Linked DNA regions of Homo sapiens: region 2 is linked to region 1. The links come from fine-mapping of genetic effects on gene expression. A gene starts in region 1. The other region holds a variant in brackets. All regions are shown on one strand. Distances are between the middles of the regions. Region 1 holds the start of BCKDK (branched chain keto acid dehydrogenase kinase). Region 2 has its middle 9.3 kb from the start of PRSS36.

Region 1 (9,765 bases):
AATCCTCTCAGGGACTCCAACCAGAAACATCCCTTCCCAGCTCAAAACCCACTCATGGGCCAGCTGCAGTGGCTCATGCCTGTAACCCCACCACTTTGGGAGGCTGGGGTGGAAGGATCATTTGAGCCCAGAAGTTCAAGTCCAGCCCGGGGCAACATAGGGCTTTGTAGAAACCCTGTTTCTACAAAAAATTTTAAAATTTAGCCTGGCATGATGGTCCAAGCTACTCAGAAGGCTGAGGTGGGAGAATCTCTTGATCCCAGGAGTTCAAGGCTGCAGTGAACTCTGCAGCCACCATATTCCAGCCTGGGCAACAGAGCAAGACCCCATTTCTAAATAAATAAAAACTCACCCATGGATCCCTATGGCTCAAGATAAATCCCATGTTTCAGGGCCCTGGCCTCTGACTGCTGCCTGCCTCTCCAGCCTCAGCACCCTGCCTTGCAGCTGGCGGGATTTTTCAGTCTAGCAAGTCACTGTGGTTTCCTAGCCCCTGCCATTTGGCTTCCACATACAACTTCCCCTCCATCCCCGTGAAGGGTAGGAGATGGTACAGGCCTAGAGCCAGCCTCAGGAAGTTTGCTGTGGGAGCTCACATGTGAAGGCAAGAGAACTTTCCAGTTCTCCTCCCAGCCCCACCAGGCCGCCCTTAGGCCTTTCTTCCCTGGCAAGGTGGGTAGGGTGTTCCTACCTAAGATGTCATCTGGAGTTCTGATTCAGGTCTAACCTTGAGCCTACCTGATATCTTTGCCCAAATCCTTGGTCCTTTCTATCAGGGCCCCACCTTTCCTTGCAGTGGGGCACCCAGTCCCTGCTAGGGCCTGCCAAGGCACAACCTTGTATGTTCTTTTCCTTGGCAGCAGCAGACACAGTATTTTTAACCTACTCAGGCTTGGGAAGCAGTTGGCTCAGGAGTTTGCCCAGTCTGGTGACCTTCACCTCTAGAAACTGTGACTGCCAGGAAAGGAAGAGTCAAAACTGATGCCCGAAGCTGGGTCAGTCTGGGCCTTCAATATTATCTGGGACCCGGAAACATTTGTTCAACAAGATGAATGAAAGCTCTTTGTATAAGGTGCTGCAGTCATCCCACTCCCACCAAATCAAACATGCAACAGACTTGGGACCCATTCTACTCCTGGCCTGCCAGGCTCTCAGGGCAGGTAAGAGACTGGGACACGAACCAGTTCAACCCAAGGGCTCAGTGAACCTGAATGGGGGCAGAAACAAAAGTTCACCTGCCCTCCCCACACACGGGGCCCGAGAGGGCATTCAAAATGTGAACTTTAATAACAGGTCAGAGTGGGGGTTCCCCAGGAACGAGAATGACGGAACTGGTGCTGGAGGCCTCAGGGTGCCCACTTCCCTGCTCCAAGTTCTGGAGGCGAGGAGGCAATGGACCCTGTTGAGGCAGGGCAGTGCCCAGCTCCATGTAAGTCCATCTGTCTGGGTCCCTGAGACCCAAGATGCAGCAGTGTGTGGAGCAGGGGGCCGCCCTGCCTGACCCGGGAGGTCCTGCAGGGAATGCGGCCCAGGCTGGTCGGGTGAGCAGGCCAAAGGCTGTGGGGTCAGATCCGGAAGCTTTCCTCCCGGCCATCGATGTGGCGGAGCCGCAGGTAGACGTCCGTGCCAATGCCCTGCAGGGACTGCAGCTGCAGAGACCCACCGAGGTACTCCGCGTAGGCCCGTGACGTGGGCAACCCGAAGCCAAAGCTGGGGGTGGGCAGGGGGACAGGACAGGAGGCTTCAGAGGCTTGAGTCTCCTGGGGTCCCCCACCCCTCCATCCTGGCCTGGCAGGGTCTCACCCGTGCATGGGTCCTGACTGGGCGCCACTATGCATGTCCAGATGGCCAAAGAGGGGGCTGATCCGGGGGTCCTGTGTGCTGGCCTCAGCAGTAGTGAAGTGGTAGTCCATGACCCGGTCCAGATCTTTGTGAGCGATTCCTCCACCACGGTCTGAGATCCTAGCAAGATGGCAACAACAATGGGCTTGGCTCAGCTTTGATGGGGTACTCACCACCCCCCAAGCAGACAGTGCAAAGTCTGCCTTCCTGTTCCTTCCACCCAGAGCTGGAATGTGGTCCACCTAGACCCTTGGGCCTTGTTTATATCATCCTCACCCCTGCCAGGGCCACTGACTGCTTATACCTTCTCACAGGATGTGACATTTATCCTCGGCCCAGCATCCTAGACCGACTCCTGACTATTTCTCAATTTCAAGCTCCTCAGCTGCTGACAGAGGCAGGATACCTAGGCCTGCAGCTGGCCCCAGATCCATTAATAAGCAGCTCATGGCCATCTCAGGATTCAGAGAATAGTTTGTCTGGTCAGGGACCAAGTCCCAGAATGGGGCAGGAAGGGGCTCAAGGTCCTAAATCAAGTCAGAAACAGTGCCTAGACCCCCATCCCATCCACCTCAGCTCAACTCCCACTCAGGGCAAACCTGATGATCAGATCGACATCATTGTTGGCGATGGTGATGACCACATCTGGGACATTGTAGGGAGTGTCTAGGTGACTCTCCATTGTGGCTCTATGCAGAGGGGAAAGACCAGTAGGTACAAGCACCCCGGTTCCTGTCCGCCCCCAAGCCAGCACATCAAGCCACCCCACCTCATGGCATTCTTGAGCAGCTCCGGCAGGATGTAGTCCAGTGGCATAGGGATGAAGGGGAACCGGGCAGCCACATGGCCATTGATGCGGACACGGGGCGCATTGCCATACTTGTGCTCACACAGGCGTCTGCGGATAGGAGCGAGGGTTCAGTCAGGGGCCCCTCCACCAGTGGTTTGCAACTGGAAACAATTCTGCCCCCCTAAGTAACATATGGCAATGTGCAGAGACATTTTTGTTTGTCACAACTAGGCAGTACTGCTGGCGCCAGGGATGCTGCTGAACTTCCTAACGTGCACGGGGCAGCCCCTGTGACAAAGAATTATCTGGCTGGAAATGTCAATAGTGCCATGGTTGAGAAACCCTGCTCCCCGCAGATCATGCCCCGGGCAAGGGCTCAGACCCAAGCCTTCCCTGCCCCAGATGTCTGCCCACCCCCTGAGCCATTCTTGCCTCACCTGGCAAAGTCCACCCACTTCTCAATAATCTTCTTTGGTGAGAGACGAGTACAGATGATGCCGACAAAGTCAGGCTGGCCGGAGAAAGGAGGTCAGGACTACCCACGCCCCTAGCCCCACCCCAAGATGCTGGCAACTTCGGAACTGCCCCAAAGCACCAGCCCCACAGCCTCAGCCCCCAGGCCCTTGACCCGGATCCCCAGCCCAGTCTCCTCTGTCTCACTTAATGTTCCCAGGTGGGTCTCAGGTCCCAGAGCCCCACCTTGTCCTCATGCAGCGCCAGGTGATGCGTGGCCAACATGCGGATTCCAAGCCTCGAAGTCAGCGTCTTGTCCAAGAAGTAGCGGACGAGCTTTTCATCCTGTAAAGAGTGAGGTCTCAGAATCCCGTGCCCTTCCCACCCCCAGCAGGCCCGGCCTCTCCTTTGCTGCCCCAACCTCTATGTGCTTCCGGCTCTCACGTAGGCCCTCTGCCAAGAGGGTCACCACATCCTTGTGGTCATCCAGCAGCTGTCGCACCAGCTGGCAGTACTGGGCCTCGTCCGCCTGGTCCTTGATCTGCAGGTCACAGAGTCATGAGGAAGGGTGGTCCAAGCCCAACCTCTCAGCCCCTCACCCTGCTCTGGCCCAGCACTCACCGGAGGGAAGTCTGTCAGCTTCTGGAAGGCACGGATATATAGCTCATGCTGCAAGGAAGAGGTGTGGGAATTCACAAAGCCGCATGGGCACTGAGCAGAGAACAGCCACCCCCACCTACCCATGGGGATCACCACCCAGCTGGTCGACCACGTGATCAAACCCCCACTTCGACCCTTCCAGGCTCCGTGAATACACACCTTTGGCTTCTGAAGGCCTGGGGTTGAATCCTGTGTGGCCCTGACACCTTTAGGCAAGCAATCGTCTGCCACTCTGGGCCCCAGACTCCCCACTTGCCCCCGGGGCAGGGTGGCCCGCTGACCTAAGGTCCTCTCTACCTTACCACGTGCAGTATGGTGGGGTTGCAGCCAATGATGAAAGGAAGGCAGCGGAAGCCCTTGATGCGGTGAGCAATCCTCACTGGAAGTTCTTGCTGCAGGTACCGAGCACTTTTCTGGGAGAAAATGAGAAGGGAAGGCGGGGCTGGAGCCTGAGTGTCTGGGAGAGCTCCAGGATCCACGAGGAAAATAGAGGGCGTGAATCTTACCAGAAGGTGGCTGCCGTCCTGAGAGCGGCCAGCGTAGAGCATCATGGTGGGCGTTAGGCGGACTGAGGGCTAGAGAGGGAGAGAGGCCTTGAGCAGAGAACCCCCAACACTCTCCCTCCCGCCTACATCCCGGACCCTGGGCTGGCTGCCCCCTTGCGCACCTTCTCCGCTGCCGCGTCGATGGCCGACTGGTTGTAAAAGGAGGTGACGGTCTTGGAGCGCTCCCGAGCCATCTCCACGTGGTGTGTGTCGGTGGCCGACGTCGAGCGGGCCCGGAGCGCGAGTGCGGGTCCCAGGAGGGGCCGGAGCGGAAGCCCGCCCCCGGGACCGCTCCTCAGCACCGACGCCAGGATCATCGTCTTGCTCCTTTCAGACCCGGTGGCCGCTAGGACTGAGGATCCGCTAGGACTGAGGACCCAGGCGACCCAAAATGGGGCAAGGGGGTGTGGGTGGGTAGGGGCTCTTCTCCGACTTCAGGGACCAGGGTGCGTCGAGGATGCTGACAGGCTCAGCCCGCGGAGAGCAGCTCCCATCTACCGGGGCGGGGAAGAGGAAGTTGTAAGGATCCGAATCCACAGAACCCGCACCATCTCTCCACCTGTGCATCGGTCTCCCCAGACCCGGGCGACCTCTCCCCACCACTCCCACCGTCTCCCCAGATGCACACAGGCCGCGCCCAAAGGACCTAGCCTCCCGGGGGCTTCTATTCCCCAACCCGAGGCTCTACTGGCGGTGGGAGGGCTGTCGGGGGAGGAGCCCCTCAGACCCTTCCAGCCCGAAAACCTCGCCCCAGCGCCCCGGGGTCCCGGGTACCCTTCTCAGGGGGCGGGGCTGCCCCTGCCTGCCCAGCGCCTTCAAACCCGGGCCCTGGGAGCGCGGCCAGCGAACGTGCGACACCAGCCCTGGGCCCCTGGGGCCGGCTTGGGAGGGTGCGGCACGGAGTCCCCAGCGGGACCCCCCACGCGGGTCACTTGGTTCGGCCCGGATGCCCCCCATATGGTAGATGCCAGCCCCGTCTGCGCGCCCGCGCTGTGATGGAGGCTGCGGACGTGCGCCGCGGGGCCTCCGCGGACTGAGTAGGCTGGGGTCGCCCCACTTACCGCGGGGCCGGAGCCAGGGCCCGGGTCCCAGCGGAAGGGCTCGAACAGTCCACTCGCCAGGCGCCCAGCCGCCTGCGCCCTCCGCCGCCGTGACGTCGCGTGGGCGGCAGCGCCCGCTGGGTCCTGGGAGTTGTAGTTTGGTCTGAGGACGTGCCGTCCCGGGCGCCCGCGCATCCAGGCCACGCCCTTGCTCCCGGACCCCAAACAGCACCGCTTCCTCCACACGGCTCTCGAGGCTCTCCGTGTCCCTCCCAGCCTCTATCTCCTGCTCTATGAAACGGGCTCCCTGGGAGCTGGAAGATCTTAGATGTAAAGCGCACAGATCACGCCCTACCTGACTCCTTCTCGGAGCTCTTGTCCTCCTTCCAGTTCTTGGTTCATTTATGGGTAACCAGGCTTCAAACCCCAGCTCGACCCCTTAATATCTGGAGCAAGTTATTTAACTGCTCAGTGCTTGGTAAGATGAAGAGATATCATCAGTTTTGGGGTTGTGTGGATTACATGAATTTATATGAGTGCCTAGAACAGTGCCAGGCGTGGAATTAGCACTATATAAGGGTTAGGCATTATTATTATTCACTCATGCCTGCAGATAATGCAAGTCGCTGACTGGGTGTCTTTTCTGCACCAGGAGAGGAGATTGGGCAGTGAGTTGAATAGATCTTTCCGTGCCCTGCATAAGAAAACAGTTTCAGTATCATTGGCTGTGATGAGGACTTTCAGAGGAGGCTGCGGGAGCCTCAGATAGAAACTGAGACAGCTGTGTAGGTGCAGCCTGAGTAGGACTTGCAAGGGAGCGGGGTGGGAAGGGTGTGTGGCAGGACAGACAACAGCCCAGATGGTCTGAGGATATGGCTGGAGCCATATGGGATCTGGGAAGGAGAGGGGCGGCAGCAGAGAGCGAAGGATAAGTCTGCATTTGTCCTAGGGTAGTTAGGAACTACTGAAGGGTTTTAACTGGTGGGCTCTCCTCCTTAGACAGAACCCCTTGTCTGCAGTGATTTAGAGTGGGGCGTTTGGTGAGACCAAAGGCAGAGAAACCAATAAGAAGACAATTACTTTAGGCCAGGCGCAGTGGCTCAGGCCTGTAATCCCAGCACTTTGAGAGGACGAGGTGGGCGGATCTCAGGAGTTCCAGACCAGCCTGGCCAACTTGGCAAAACCCCGTCTCTACTAAAAATACAAAAATCAGCCGGGTGTTGTGGCTGGCGCCTGTAATCCCAGCTACTCGCGAGGCTGAGGCAGGAGAATCGCTCGAACCCGGGAGGAGGAGGTTGCAGTGAGCCGATATCCCGCCACTGCTCTCCATCCTGGGCAACAAGAGCAAAACTCCGTTGCAAAAAAAAAAAAAATTATCCAGGCAGGAGGCGCTGGAAGGGACACGTTTCAGTGTGTGCACGTGCATATGTGTGTAGTGTGTATTTGTACTAATTGCAATTTTCTTTACCATGGTTATATATTTCCTAAATATGTTCAATAAAAAGTGCTAAGTGAAGCAAGTGACATCTTTGGAGGCTATCTTTATTTATTTATTTGGAGATGGGGTCTCGCTCTGTTGCTCAAGCTGTAATACAGTCGCTCCATAGTAGCTCACTGCAGCCTCCGACTTAAATGATCCTCCCACCTCAGCCTCTCAAGTAGCCGAGACTGTAAGTGTGCACCACTACCCCCAGGGTGATTTTTTCCCCCTCAGGCAATCCTTTTGCCACAGCCTCCCAAAGTGCTGGGATTACAGACGTAACCCACCGTGCCTGGCCTATTTTTCTTAGAGCCGGGGTCTCGCTATGTTGCCCAGGCTGGTCTCAAATTCCTGGCCTCAGCCTCCTGAGTTGTTGGGGTTACAGGAGTGAGCCACTGGGCCTGGCGGCTGTCTTTAAACTTGGAGGTTAGCCAGGTGCAGTGGCTCATGCTTGTAATCCCAGCACTTTGGGAGGCCAAGGCGGGCAGATGACCTGAGGTCAGGAGTTCGAGACCAGCCTGGCCAATATGGTGAAACTCTGTCTTTACTAAAAATACAAAAATTAGCCGGATGTGGTGGCATGCACCTGTAATCCCTGCTACTCGGGAGGCTGAGGCAGAAGAATCGCTTGAACCCGGGAGGCGGAGGTTGCAGTGAGCCAAGATCGTGCCAATGCACTCCAGCCTGGGCGACAGAGAGAGGCTCCGTCTCAAAAATAAATAAATAAATAATAAATAATAAACTTGAAGGTGAAAAAAATAAATAATAAATAATAATAAATATAAACTTGGAGGGAGGACGCCTCACCGTGACTGGCCTGCCTGAGCAATTGGGGGCAGACCACGGGAAAGGGGCGCCCTGCATCTCTGGGTTTCCTCTTTGACCCCCACCCACACCATTCCCACCCGTTCTTTCCCAACGTCCTGGAGTACAGCCAGGCGGCGGCAGCCCCAAGGCAGCCACGGCTGGAGCCCGTGGTAAAAGGGAGCGGGAAGGGTGCTCCTGGCGGGGAGGACAGGCTGCGCAAAGCAGCAAAGGACTGGCAGTGGTCTGTGCGCCAGAATCTGGCGCTCACGTGGCCGCGGCGTGGACAGGAGCCGCAGGCGGAGGAGGCTGCGGCTGCCACCGAGGTGGAGAGGTCTGGCACAGGCCTCACCCCATTTGACCCCGCTCGCTAGGCCCCGGCTCGGCCTGGACTCGCTGCTGCCCCCGGCGGCGGAGGTTGGACATGCACCTCGCGACCCCCTTTTCAGAATACTGTATACAGGTCAGGCGGCTTTCTTTTTTTTTTTTTTTATTTTTTTATTTTTTTTTTTTTATTTTTATTTTTTATTGATCATTCTTGGGTGTTTCTCGCAGAGGGGGATTTGGCAGGGTCATAGGACAATAGTGGAGGGAAGGTCAGCAGATAAACAAGTGAACAAAGGTCTCTGGTTTTCCTAGGCAGAGGACCCTGCGGCCTTCCGCAGTGTTTGTGTCCCTGGGTACTTAAGATTAGGGAGTGGTGATGACTCTTAACGAGCATGCTGCCTTCAAGCAGGGCAGAGGGGCTCCTCACTTCCCAGTAGGGGCGGCCGGGCAGAGGCGCCCCTCACCTCCCGGACGGGGCGGCTGGCCAGGCGGGGGGCTGATCCCCCCACCTCCCTCCCGGACGGGGCGGCTGGTCGGGCGGGGGGCTGACCCCCCCCACTTCCCTCCCGGACGGGGCGGCTGGCCGGGCGGGGGGCTGACCCCCCCACCTCCCTCCCGGACGGGGCGGCTGGCCGGGCAGAGGGGCTCCTCACTTCCCAGTAGGGGCGGCCGGGCAGAGGCGCCCCTCACCTCCCGGACGGGGCGGCTGGCCAGGCGGGGGGCTGATCCCCCCACCTCCCTCCCGGACTGGGCGGCTGGCCGGGCGGGGGGCTGATCCCCCCACCTCCCTCCCGGACTGGGCGGCTGGCCGGGCGGGGGGCTGACCCCCCCACCTCCCTCCCGGACGGGGCGGCTGGCTGGGCAGAGGGGTCCTCACTTCCCAGTAGGGGCGGCGGGGCAGAGGCGCCCCTCACCTCCCGGACGGGGCGGCCGGCCGGGCGGGGGGCTGACCCCCCCACCTCCCTCCCGGACGGGGCGGCTGGCCGGGCAGAGGGGCTCCTCACTTCCCAGTAGGGGCGGCCGGGCAGAGGCACCCCTCACCTCCCGGACGGGGCGGCTGGCCGGGCGGGGGGCTGACCCCCACCACCTCCCTCCCGGACGGGGCGGCTGGCCGGGCAGGGGGCTGACCCCCCCTCCCCCCTCCCGGACGGGGCGGCTGGCCGGGCAGAGGGGCTCCTCACTTCCCAGTAGGGGCGGCCGGGCAGAGGCGCCCCTCACCTCCCGGACTGGGCGGCTGGCCGGGCGGGGGGCTGACCCCCCCACCTCCCTCCTGGACGGGGCGACTGGCCAGGCAGAGGGGCTCCTCACTTCCCAGTAGGGGCGGCCGGGCAGAGGAGCCCCTCACCTCCCGGATGGGGCGGCTGGCCGGGCGGGGGGCTGACCCCCCCCACCTCCCTCCCGGACGGGGTGGCTGCCGGGCGGAGACGCTCCTCACTTCCCAGACGGGGTGGCTGCCGGACGGAGGGGCTCCTCACTTCTCAGACGGGGCGGTTGCCAGGCAGAGGGTTTCCTCACTTCTCAGACGGGGCGGCCGGGCAGAGACGCTCCTCACCTCCCAGATAGGGTTGCGGCCAGCAGAGGCGCTCCTCACATCCCAGACAGGGCGGCGGGGCAGAGGTGCTCCCCACATCTCAGACGATGGGCGGCCGGGCAGAGACGCTCCTCACTTCCTAGATGGGAAGGCGGCGGGGAAGAGGCGCTCCTCGCTTCCTAGATGGGATGGCGGCCGGGCAGAGACGCTCCTCACTTTCCAGACTGGGCAGCCAGGCAGAGAGGCTCCTCATATCCCAGACGATGGGTGGCCAAGCAGAGACGCTCCTCACT
Region 2 (9,765 bases), 50 kb before region 1:
GTCTCTACTAAAAATACAAAAAAATTAGCCATGTGTGGTGGCAGGTGCTTGTAATCCCAGCTCCTCAGGAGGCTGAGGCAGGAGAATCGCTTGAACCCTGGAGGCAGAGGTTTCAGTGAGCTGAGAATGCTCCATTGCACGCCAGCCTGGGCAATGAGTGAAACTCCATCTCAAAAAAAAAAAAAAATTAACAAGATGCTGAGCATGGTGGTGCATGCCTGTAATCCCAGCAAATTAGAAAGCTGAGGTGGGAGGATGGCTTGAGCCCAGGACTTGGAGATGAGCCTGGGCAACATAGTGAGACCATCTTGCCCCCGATTTTAAAAATAATAATTAAAATAAAAAGGCTGTGGGAAAACATTATGTAATAAAGCTGGAAGATTTCCTTCTCATTTGAGAAGGGGTCTGTTTGTTTGTTTTATAGAGACGGTCTTGCTGTGTTGCCCAGGCTGGTCTGGAACTCCCAGACTCAAGCAATCCTCATGCATCAGCCTCCTGAAGTGCTGGGATTACAGGCATGAGACACCACGCCCAGCCTCAGAGGGTTTTTTAGGTTGTTTTGTTGTTTTTTTTTGTTTGTTTTGTTTTTTGACACGGAGTCTCCCTCTGTTGCCCAGGCTGGAGTGCAGTGGGGTGATCTCAGCTCACAGCAACCTCCACCTCCCAGGTTCAAGCCTCAATTCTCCTGCCTCAGCCTCCTGAGTAGCTGGGATTACAGGCATGCGCCACCACGCTTGGCTAATTTTTGTATTTTTAGTAGAGACGGGTTTTCACCATGTTGGCCAGGCTGGTCTCAAACTCCTGACCTCGTGATCCACCCACCTCGGCCTTCCAAAGTGCTGGGATTACAGGTGTGAGCCACCGCGCCCAGCTGTTTTTCTTTTTTTTTAAGACAGAGTTTTCGTTCTTGTTGCTCAGGCTGGAGTGCAATGGCACGATCTCGGCTCACTGCAAACTCTGCCTCCTGGGTTCAAGCGATTCTCCTGCCTCAGCCTCCCAAGTAGCTGGGATTACAGGCATGCACCGCCACACGCAGCTACTTTTGTATTTTTAGTAGAGATAGGGTTTCTCCATGTTGGTCAGGCTGGTCTCAAACTCTTGACCTCAGGTGATCCGCCCCCCTCAGCCTCCCAAAGTGCTGCGATTACAGGCGTGAGCCACTGCGCCCAGCCTCAGAGGGTTTTTTAACCTGATGATGCGTATCGAAATAGGAAGACATTTTTATTAGTAAATTTGACTTTAGTATTTTTAGGTGAATATGTGTTTTTTCTCCGTGGTGGCAGAAGAAGAAACACATTATCGGATCGCCAAAAAACCTAACCATGAAAGAGTGTAAAATTGGAGAAACAGATATGGTTTACTTTAGTCTACCAGGGACAATTATGTGGCTGTTTGTGTAACATAATTGTTACTTGCTACTTTTTCTGTGGCTGACGATATGCAAAACTCTCTGGGCCAGTACAAAAATTGTGCGAAATTTACCAATGGCTGGAAGCAGTGGCTCACGCCTGTAATCCCAACACTTCAGGAGGCAAAGGTGGGAGGATTCCTTGAGGCCAGGAGTTCAAGACCAGCCTCAGCAACATAGCAAGACCCCCATCTCTACAAAAAATGTAAAAACCTAGCTGGGCGTGGTGGCATCCAAGTAGTCCCAGCTACTCTGGAGGCTAAAATACAAAATTACTAAAATACGAAATACTACATTACTAAAATACAGAATTACTGAAAATACAAAATTAGCCAGGCATGGTGGCCAGGGACTGCTTCAATTTCTCTGCCTTCTCTTTGTCAATGATGACCAGGGTATAAAGGTATCTGCTGCATCGAACTTTAAACTTCACATTGTCCTTATTTTTCTTTTTTTTTCTTTTTTTTCTTTTTTTTATTTTGAGACAGAGTTTTGCTCTTATTGCCCAGGCTAGAGTGCAGTGGTGCAATCTCGGCTCACTGCAACCTCCGCCTTCCAGTTTCAAGCGATTCTTCTACCTCAGCCTCCCAAGTCGCTGGGATTACAGGTGCCCGCCACCATGTCCAGCTAATTTTTTGTATTTTTAGTAGAGACGGGGTTTCACCATGTTGGTCAGGCTGGTCTTGAACTGCTGACCTCGTGATCCACCCGCCTAGACCTCCCAAAGTGCTGGGATTACAGGCATGATCCACCGTGCCCGGCGCATTGTCCTTATTTTTCTTGATCTTGACAGATTTGGCATCCTTTTGTCGGGCTGTGAGCAGAAAGACCTTGATTTCCTCAATTTTCTGAGGCATGGCAACAAGGAACACAGGGAGCAGGCGGGGACCGGGACAGTGAGCAGCGACCAAGGAGAGCTTGAGTTTATTATAAGAGCCTAGAGCCGCCACAGAGACTTTTAAGCAGGGACAAACACTTTTTTTTCTTTTTTTGAGATTGAGTTTCACTCTTGTTGCTCAGGCTGGAGTGCAGTGGCGCGATCTCGGCTCCCTGCAACCTCCGCCTCCCAGGTTCAAGCGATTATCCTGCCTAGCCTCCCGAGTAGCTGGGATTACAGGTGCCTGCAACCACACCTGGCTAATTTTTTTTTCTTTTTCTTTTCTTTTTTTTTTTTTTCTGAGACAGAGTCTTACTCTGTTACCAGGGCTGGAGTGCAGTGGCACAATCTCAGCTCACTGCAACCTCCACCTCCCAGGTTCAAGCAGTTCTCCTGCCTCAGCCTGGGATTACAGGCGCCTGCCACTACCAAACACCCAGCTAATTTTTTGTATTTTTAGTAGAAAGGGGGTTTCACCATGTTGGCCAGGCTGGTCTCGACCTCCTGACCTCATGATTTGCCCACCTTGGCCTCCCAAAGTGCTGGGATTACAGGCGTGAGCCACCTCATCTAGCCCGGAGTTTCACTCTTGTTGCCCAGGCTGGAGTGCAATGGCGCGATCTTGGCTCACTGCAACTTCTGCCTCCTGGGTTCAAGCGATTCTCCTGTCTCAGCCTCCTTAGTAGCTGGGATCACAGGTGCCCGCCACCACTCCCAGCTAATTTTTTGTATTTTTAGAAGAGATGGTGTTTCACTATGTTGGCCAGGCTGCTCTTGAACTCCAGACCTCAGGCAATCCACCCGCCTCGGCCTCCCAAAGTGCTGGGATTACAGGCGTGAGCCACCACTCCCTGCTAATTTTTTGTACTTTTTTTTAAGTAGAGACAGGGTTTCACCATATTGGCCAGTCTGGTTTCAAACTCCTGACCTCAGATGATCACCCACCTCAGCCTCCCAAACTGTTGGGATTACAGGCGTGAGCCACCACGCCTGTCCGTGTCCCTGTGTGTTTGATTAAACTAATCTCAATGGGTTTTCATTATCTAAACAGCTTCCCCTCTCATACGCATTCTCGTTTCAGATGTTCAGAATTCAGAAAATACAAACAACCTGCAGGAGAAATGGCTGCTCAGCTTGAGTACCTGAGGTCCTGCAACACCCCACCTCCTTTGTTTTCCAGAGGGGTTCAGAAAGCTCGCTGTGCTCAGGCCTCCAAGTCAGGGCCATAAGCCTTGTTGCCTCCAGCCATGACTCAAAAACCTCGCCCTCACCCCCATCCCATCCTGACCTCCTCTCTTGCCCCCAAGAGCTCTCCCGGACCCCATACAGTTTATGCAGGAGCACCCCAAAACTGCTCCCCTCAGAAGCAGGAGGACGTCTCTCTCCCAGCAATGAGCTGCCACCTCCTCAGACTCCAACTCGGATTGTTCTCTCTGTGTCTCAGGAACCACCCTCCAAATTGCATACAATGGCCAGGCACGGTGGCTCATGCCTGTCATCCCAGCACTTTGGGAGGCTGAGGCAGGTGGATAACCTGAGCTCAATAGTTCAAGACCAGCCTGGCCAACATAGTGAAACCCCGTCTCTACTAAAAATACAAAAATTAGGGCCAGGCACGGTGGCTCACACCTGTAATCCCAGCGCTTTGGGAGGCCAAGGTGGGCGGATCACCTGAGGTTGGGAGTTCGAGACCAACCTGGCCAACATGGAGAACCCCTGTCTCTGCTAAAAAATACAAAATTAGCTGGGCGTGGTGGCACATGCCTGTAATCCCAGCTACTCGGGAGGCTGGGGCAAGAATCACTTGAACCCGGGAGGCAGAGGTTGCGGTGAGCTGAGATCATGCCATTGCACTCCAGCCTGGGCGACACAGCGAGACTCCATCTCAAAAAAAAAAAAAAATTCTATACAGTGCATCTCACAAAGTGAGGTCCCTTTGAAGTAGGGCAACTCATTTGAGGCTAAAGCGCTGAGTCCTGGGGCAATCTCTGGCTCCGACAGGCTCAGGGTACCAGCATGGTCCCTGGAGACCAAGAGGTGGGTGGGGAGGTGGGGGCAGAGTCTGGGAGTGAAATTGAAGGAGCAGTTACTCTTCTTGCCACGAGAGG[G/A]AGCACCAAGGGGATGTCTTGATCATATCAGTCAAGCGTGGAGTCAACACACAACATGTTCCCAATTTTATCAAGTCTCTCAAATATTCCCACTCAGAGGGTCCCTCATAGAATAACATTCTAACTCCAAGTTTTTTCTGAGAACAAGTTATTTCTGGCCAGGCGAAGTGGCTCATGTTTGTAATCCCAACACTTTGGGAGGCCAAGGCGGGCAGATCTCCTGAGGTCAGGAGTTCAAGACCAGCCTGGCCAACAGGGTGAAACCCCGTCTCTAAAATACAAAATTGTAAAATACAATTTTGTATTTAAAATACAATACTCTATCGTATTTAAAATACTCCAGAATACAAAATTGTAAAAATACAAAATTAGCTGGGAGTGGTGGTATACACCTGTAATCCCAGCTACTGGGGAGGCTGAGGCAGGAAAATCACTTGAACCCAGGAGGTGGAGGTTGCAGTGAGCCAAGATCGTGCCATTGCACTCTAGCCTGGGCAACAAGAGCAAAACTCCGTCTCAAAAAAAAAAAAAGTTATTTCTTCCAAGCAGATATGCAACAATATAGTGACTTAGCAAGATAATATTATGGAATAGGGAACAGGGTTGCCAGGTTTAGCAAAAAATTTTATTTTACTCCTTTTTTATTTTACAAAAAAATTTTGTACAAACGGGGTCTATGTTACGTTGCCCAGGCTGGTCTCGAACTCCTAGACTCAAGTAATCCTCACACCTCAGCCTCCTGAAGTGCTGGGATTATAGGCATGAGCCACCACTCCCAACCAGATTTAGCAAATAAAATAAGTGCCCGATTAAATCTGAATTTCAGGTAAACACAAATAATTTTTTTTTAAGACAGGGTCTTGCTCTGTCACCCAGGCTGGAATGCAATGGTGCAATCATAGCTCACTGCAGTTTCGAACTCCTGGTCTCAAGTGATCCTCCTGCCTCAGCCTCCCAGACCACTGGGATTACAGACGTGAGCCCTGTGCCTATTGGAAACACAAATAATTTTTTTTTGAGATAGGGTCTGGTTCTGTTGCCCAGGCAGGAGTGCAGTGGCATGGCTCACTGCAACCTCTGCCTCCTGGGCTCAAGCCATCCTCCCACCTCAGCCTCCCAAGTAGCTCCCAAGTGCACACCACCACATCCAGCTATTTTTTTTTTTTTTTGAGACGGAGTCTCGCTCTGTCACCCAGGCTGGAATGCAGGGGCGCTATCTCAGCTCACTGCAAGCTCTGCCTCCTGGGTTCGCGACATTCTCCTGCCTCAGCCTCCCGAGTAACTGGGACTACAGGTGCCCGCCACCATGCCCGGCTAATTTTTTTGTATTTTCTTTTTAGCAGAGACGGGGTTTCACTGTGTTAGCCAGGATGGTCTCAATCTCCTGACCTCGTGATCCGCCCGCCTCAGCCTCCCAAAGTGCTGGGACCACAGGCTTGAGCCACCACGCCTGGCCCACATCCAGCTAATTTTTTAAAAAACTCTTTGTAGAGATGGGGTCTCACTATATTGCCCAGGCTGATCTTAAACTCCTGAGCTCAAGCAGTCCACCTGCCTCAGCCTCCCAAAGTGCTGGGATTACAGGTGTGAGCCACTTCACTTGGCCCGACAAATAATTTTCAATATAACTCAAGTATTTCCTGAGACCTAGTTATAGTAAAAAAAAAAAAAATCGTTTATCTCAAATTCAGACTGAGCTAAGTATTCTGTATTTTAGCAGGCACTCCAAAAGGAGTGACACGTGCTTTAAGAGTTTTATACACCAGCTGGGTGTGGTGGCTCACGCCTATAATCCCAGCACTTTGGGAGGCTGAGGCGGACAGATCACCTGAGGTCAGGAGTTGGAGACCAGCCTGCCCAACATGGCGAAACCCCATCGCTATTAAAAATACAAAAAAATTAGCCGGGCATGGTGGTGGACACCTGTAATCCTAGCTACTCAGGAGGCTGAGGCAGGAGAATCACTTGAACCCGGGAGGCAGAGGTTGCAGTAAGCTGAGATCGCAACACTGCACTCCAGCCTGGGGGACAAAAGCAAAACTCCGTCTCAAAAAAAAAAAGAGTTTTACAAACCAAATGTTTGCAGTGGCTGCGCTCACGCCTGTAATCCCAACACTTTAAGAGACTGAGACGGGTGGATCACTTGAGGTCAGGAGTTCAAGATTAGCCTGGCCAACATGATGAAACCCTGTCTCTACTAAAAATACAAAAATTCGCTGGGCATGATGGTGGGCACTTGTAATTCGAGCTACTTGGGAGGCTGAGGCAGGAGAATCACTTGAACCCAGGAGGCAAAGGCTGCAGTGAGTGGAGATTGCACCACTGCACCCCAGCCTGAGCAACAGAGTGAGACTCCGTCTCAAATAAAAAATGAAAATAAAATGCAGCTTTCTCTGTCATGGCACCCATTCTGGTGTGCATGAGGACAGACAGCCCAGATTATTTTTCGAGGAGACATGTGGCCCTGCCCACAGTATATTCCACAGAACAGCCCTGACCAGAAGTGGAGTGACTCCCAGCTTCTGGCTTCCTCTTTTCACGATGAGATGCGGCACTGCTGGGCTTCGCTGGTGTGGAGCGCGTGCGGCTGTGTGCTTGAGCTGTGAAACAGTCTTCTGCTCCCTCTGGTCAGCACCTTTGGAAAGTGTGGTGAGAGCAACAATACTATCAAGGATTATCTGAAGAATGCCTTTTTTTGTAGGTCAGTGATAACCAGACATTTTAGTGACAAAGCCAATTCAGAAAAAAAGTAACCTGTTACCAAAATCCTTTAAAAAACATGATCTCTTTTATCAGGAAACATAATATCAACATCTTTGGTTAAGCATGCTTTTCTTGTTTTTCCAAATGCTGAAGGGTTTCATTATTTTAGCTAAGCTTTCAGAAACAACATTACACACATGCCCTGGTGTTATCGGATGTAAAGCTGCACATTTTCCCAACGTTTTTGGTCCAGGAAAGCATTTCTGGAGCTAGTTCGTTTGGCTTTTTCTTAATTGACTCTGGAATCCATTTATTTGCAAAGTGTGTTTTGCCTCTTTTAATTTCTTTTTACTCATGTGGAATAACCATATAGTTTTTTTTTTCTTTCCTTCTTTCTTTCTTTTCTTTTCTTTTTTTTTTTTTTTTCTTTTTTGAGACAGAGTCTCGCTCTGTCACCCAGGCTGGAGTGTAGTGGTGCAATCATAGCTCGTTGCAGCCTCGACCTCCTGGGCTTAAGTGAACCTTCTACCTCAGCCCGAGTAGCTGGGACTACAGGTGCATGCCACCATGCCTGGCTAATTTTTATTTTATTTTATTTATTTTGGGGACGGAGTTTTGCTCTTGTTGTCCAGGCCGGAGTGTAATGGCACGATCTCAGCTCACTGCAACCTCTGCCTCCTGGATTCAAGTGATTCTCCTGTTTCAGCCTCCCAGGTAGCTGGGATTATAGTCATGCACCACCATGCCCAGCTAATTTTGTATTTTTTTTTTTTTTTTAGTAGAGACAGGGTTTCACTGTGTTGGTCAGGTTGGTCTTGAACTCCCAACCTCAGGGGATATACCCGCCTTGGCCCCACAAAGTGCTGGGATACAGGTGTAAACTTTTTTTTTTTTTTTTTTTTTTAGAGATGGGGTCTCATTATGCTGCCCAAGCTAGTCTCAAAACTCCTGGGCTCAAGAGATCCTCCCACCTCAGCATCTCTAGCTAAGTTCATAGAGAGTCCTGATCTTAAGGGTACGGCTCAGTGAAACTCTGCATGTGTATATTCCTGTGTATATACACACCTACATCAAGATCTAGAACTTTCTTGCACTCTAGCAAGTTTCTCTGTGCTCCTTCCCACATAATATAATACTTCCACCAGAAGCAACCACTATTCTGATTCCTTTTTTTTTTTTTTTTTTTTTTTGAGATGGAATCTTGCTCTGTCACCCAGGCTGGAGTGCAGTGGTGCTATCTCGGCTCACTGCAACCTCCGCTTCCCAGGTTCAAGCGATTCTTCTGCTTCAGCTTCCTGAGTAGCTGGGATTACAGGCATGTGCCACCACACCCGGCTAATTTTTGTGTTTTAGTAGAGACAGGGTTTCACTGTGTTGGCTAGGCTGGTCTTGAACTCCTGACCTCAAGTGATCCGCCTGCCTCAGCCTCCCAAAGTGCTGGGATTACAGGTGTGAGCCACCGTGTCCGGCCACTATTCTGACTTCTACCACTGGGGATTAGTTATGCTTGTTCCTAAATTGCATATAATTGGAATCATGCAATATGACACATATTTGTTGAAAAAAAAATCTGTAAGATTCATCCATGTTGTTGCAGATATCAGTAATTCATTCTTTTTTATTGCTGCATAGTATTTCAGTGTATGACTATGCCACAATTTATCAATTTTCCTGGGGCCGGACATTTATGTTCTGGATCTTGGCTCTTGTATCTAGACCTTCTATGAGTGCCATGCTCTGCATATGCCTTATGGCACCCTCATTTCTCTTAGGTCTATACCTAGGATCTTGATTGTTGGGTCAAAATACAGGCATATGTTTAGCTTTCGTCTATTCTGCCAGTTATCTTTTCTTAATTTTTATTTTTAGGAATAGAGATGAAGTTTTCACTATGTTTTCCAGGCTGGTCTCAAGCTCCTGAGCTCAAGTGATGCTCTCGCCTCAGCCTCCCAAAGTGCTGGGATTACAAGGCATGAGCCACTGCGCCTGGTCTTTTTTTTTTTTTTTTTTTTTGAGACGGAGTCTCACTCTGTCGCCCAAGCTGCAGTGCAGTGGTGTGATCTCAGCTCATTGCAACCTCCGCCTCCCAGGTTCAAGCGATTCTCCTGCCTCAGCCTCCCGAGTAGCTGAGATTACAGGCGCCTGCCACCATGCCCGGCTAATTTTTTGTATTTTTAGTAGAGACGTGCCTAAGTTTTGTAATTTTAGTAGAGACGGGGTTTCACTGTGTTGGCGAGGCTGGTCTCGAACTCCTGACCTCAAGTGATCTGCCCACCTCAGCCTCCCAAAGTGCTGGGATGGATTACAGACGTGAGCCACCACACCCGGCCCCGTGCCAGACTTCTAATCTTTGAAATTGTAACATAATAAGTTGGTATTGTTTTAATCCACTGAGTATATGGGAATTTGTTACATCAGCAATGGAAAACTAATATACTAGTTCACCTATCATTTCCCCCTCCACTAGTCAGACCAGTAGAGAACTGCGTATGTATCACCTTTCTTACCCAGAGGCACCACCCACATATCCTTATTTTATTGACTGTGGTTTGTTTATGGTGTCATAGGCTGAAATTAAGCAGCACTATAAAAATCAACCTTAGGCATGGTGACACATGCCTGGAGTCCCAGCTACTCAGGAGACTGACATGGGAGAATCGATTGAGCCC

The links. PIP is the estimated chance that this variant, and not a neighbour inherited with it, causes the effect.
Region 2: its variant is fine-mapped to the expression of BCKDK in whole blood (TOPMed, PIP above 0.99).

What each region holds. Positions count from the first base shown.
Region 1 is chr16:31,104,066-31,113,830 of GRCh38, reverse strand. BCKDK (branched chain keto acid dehydrogenase kinase) reads right to left here and starts at 5,445. Exons shown (of 12, transcript NM_005881.4): 1 at 5,352-5,445; 2 at 4,413-4,784; 3 at 4,252-4,320; 4 at 4,048-4,158; 5 at 3,707-3,754; 6 at 3,507-3,626; 7 at 3,332-3,430; 8 at 3,070-3,143; 9 at 2,612-2,740; 10 at 2,442-2,531; 11 at 1,804-1,962; 12 at 1,040-1,710. The coding sequence starts at 4,607. The coding sequence ends at 1,566. RefSeq lists enhancers at 3,935-4,827, 4,828-5,721, 7,329-8,145 and a silencer at 5,053-5,592.
Region 2 is chr16:31,154,482-31,164,246 of GRCh38, reverse strand. No RefSeq gene overlaps it. Among named protein-coding and RNA genes, the nearest start is that of PRSS36, 9.3 kb to the right of the region's middle. The variant G/A (reference allele first, on the strand shown) is at 4,394.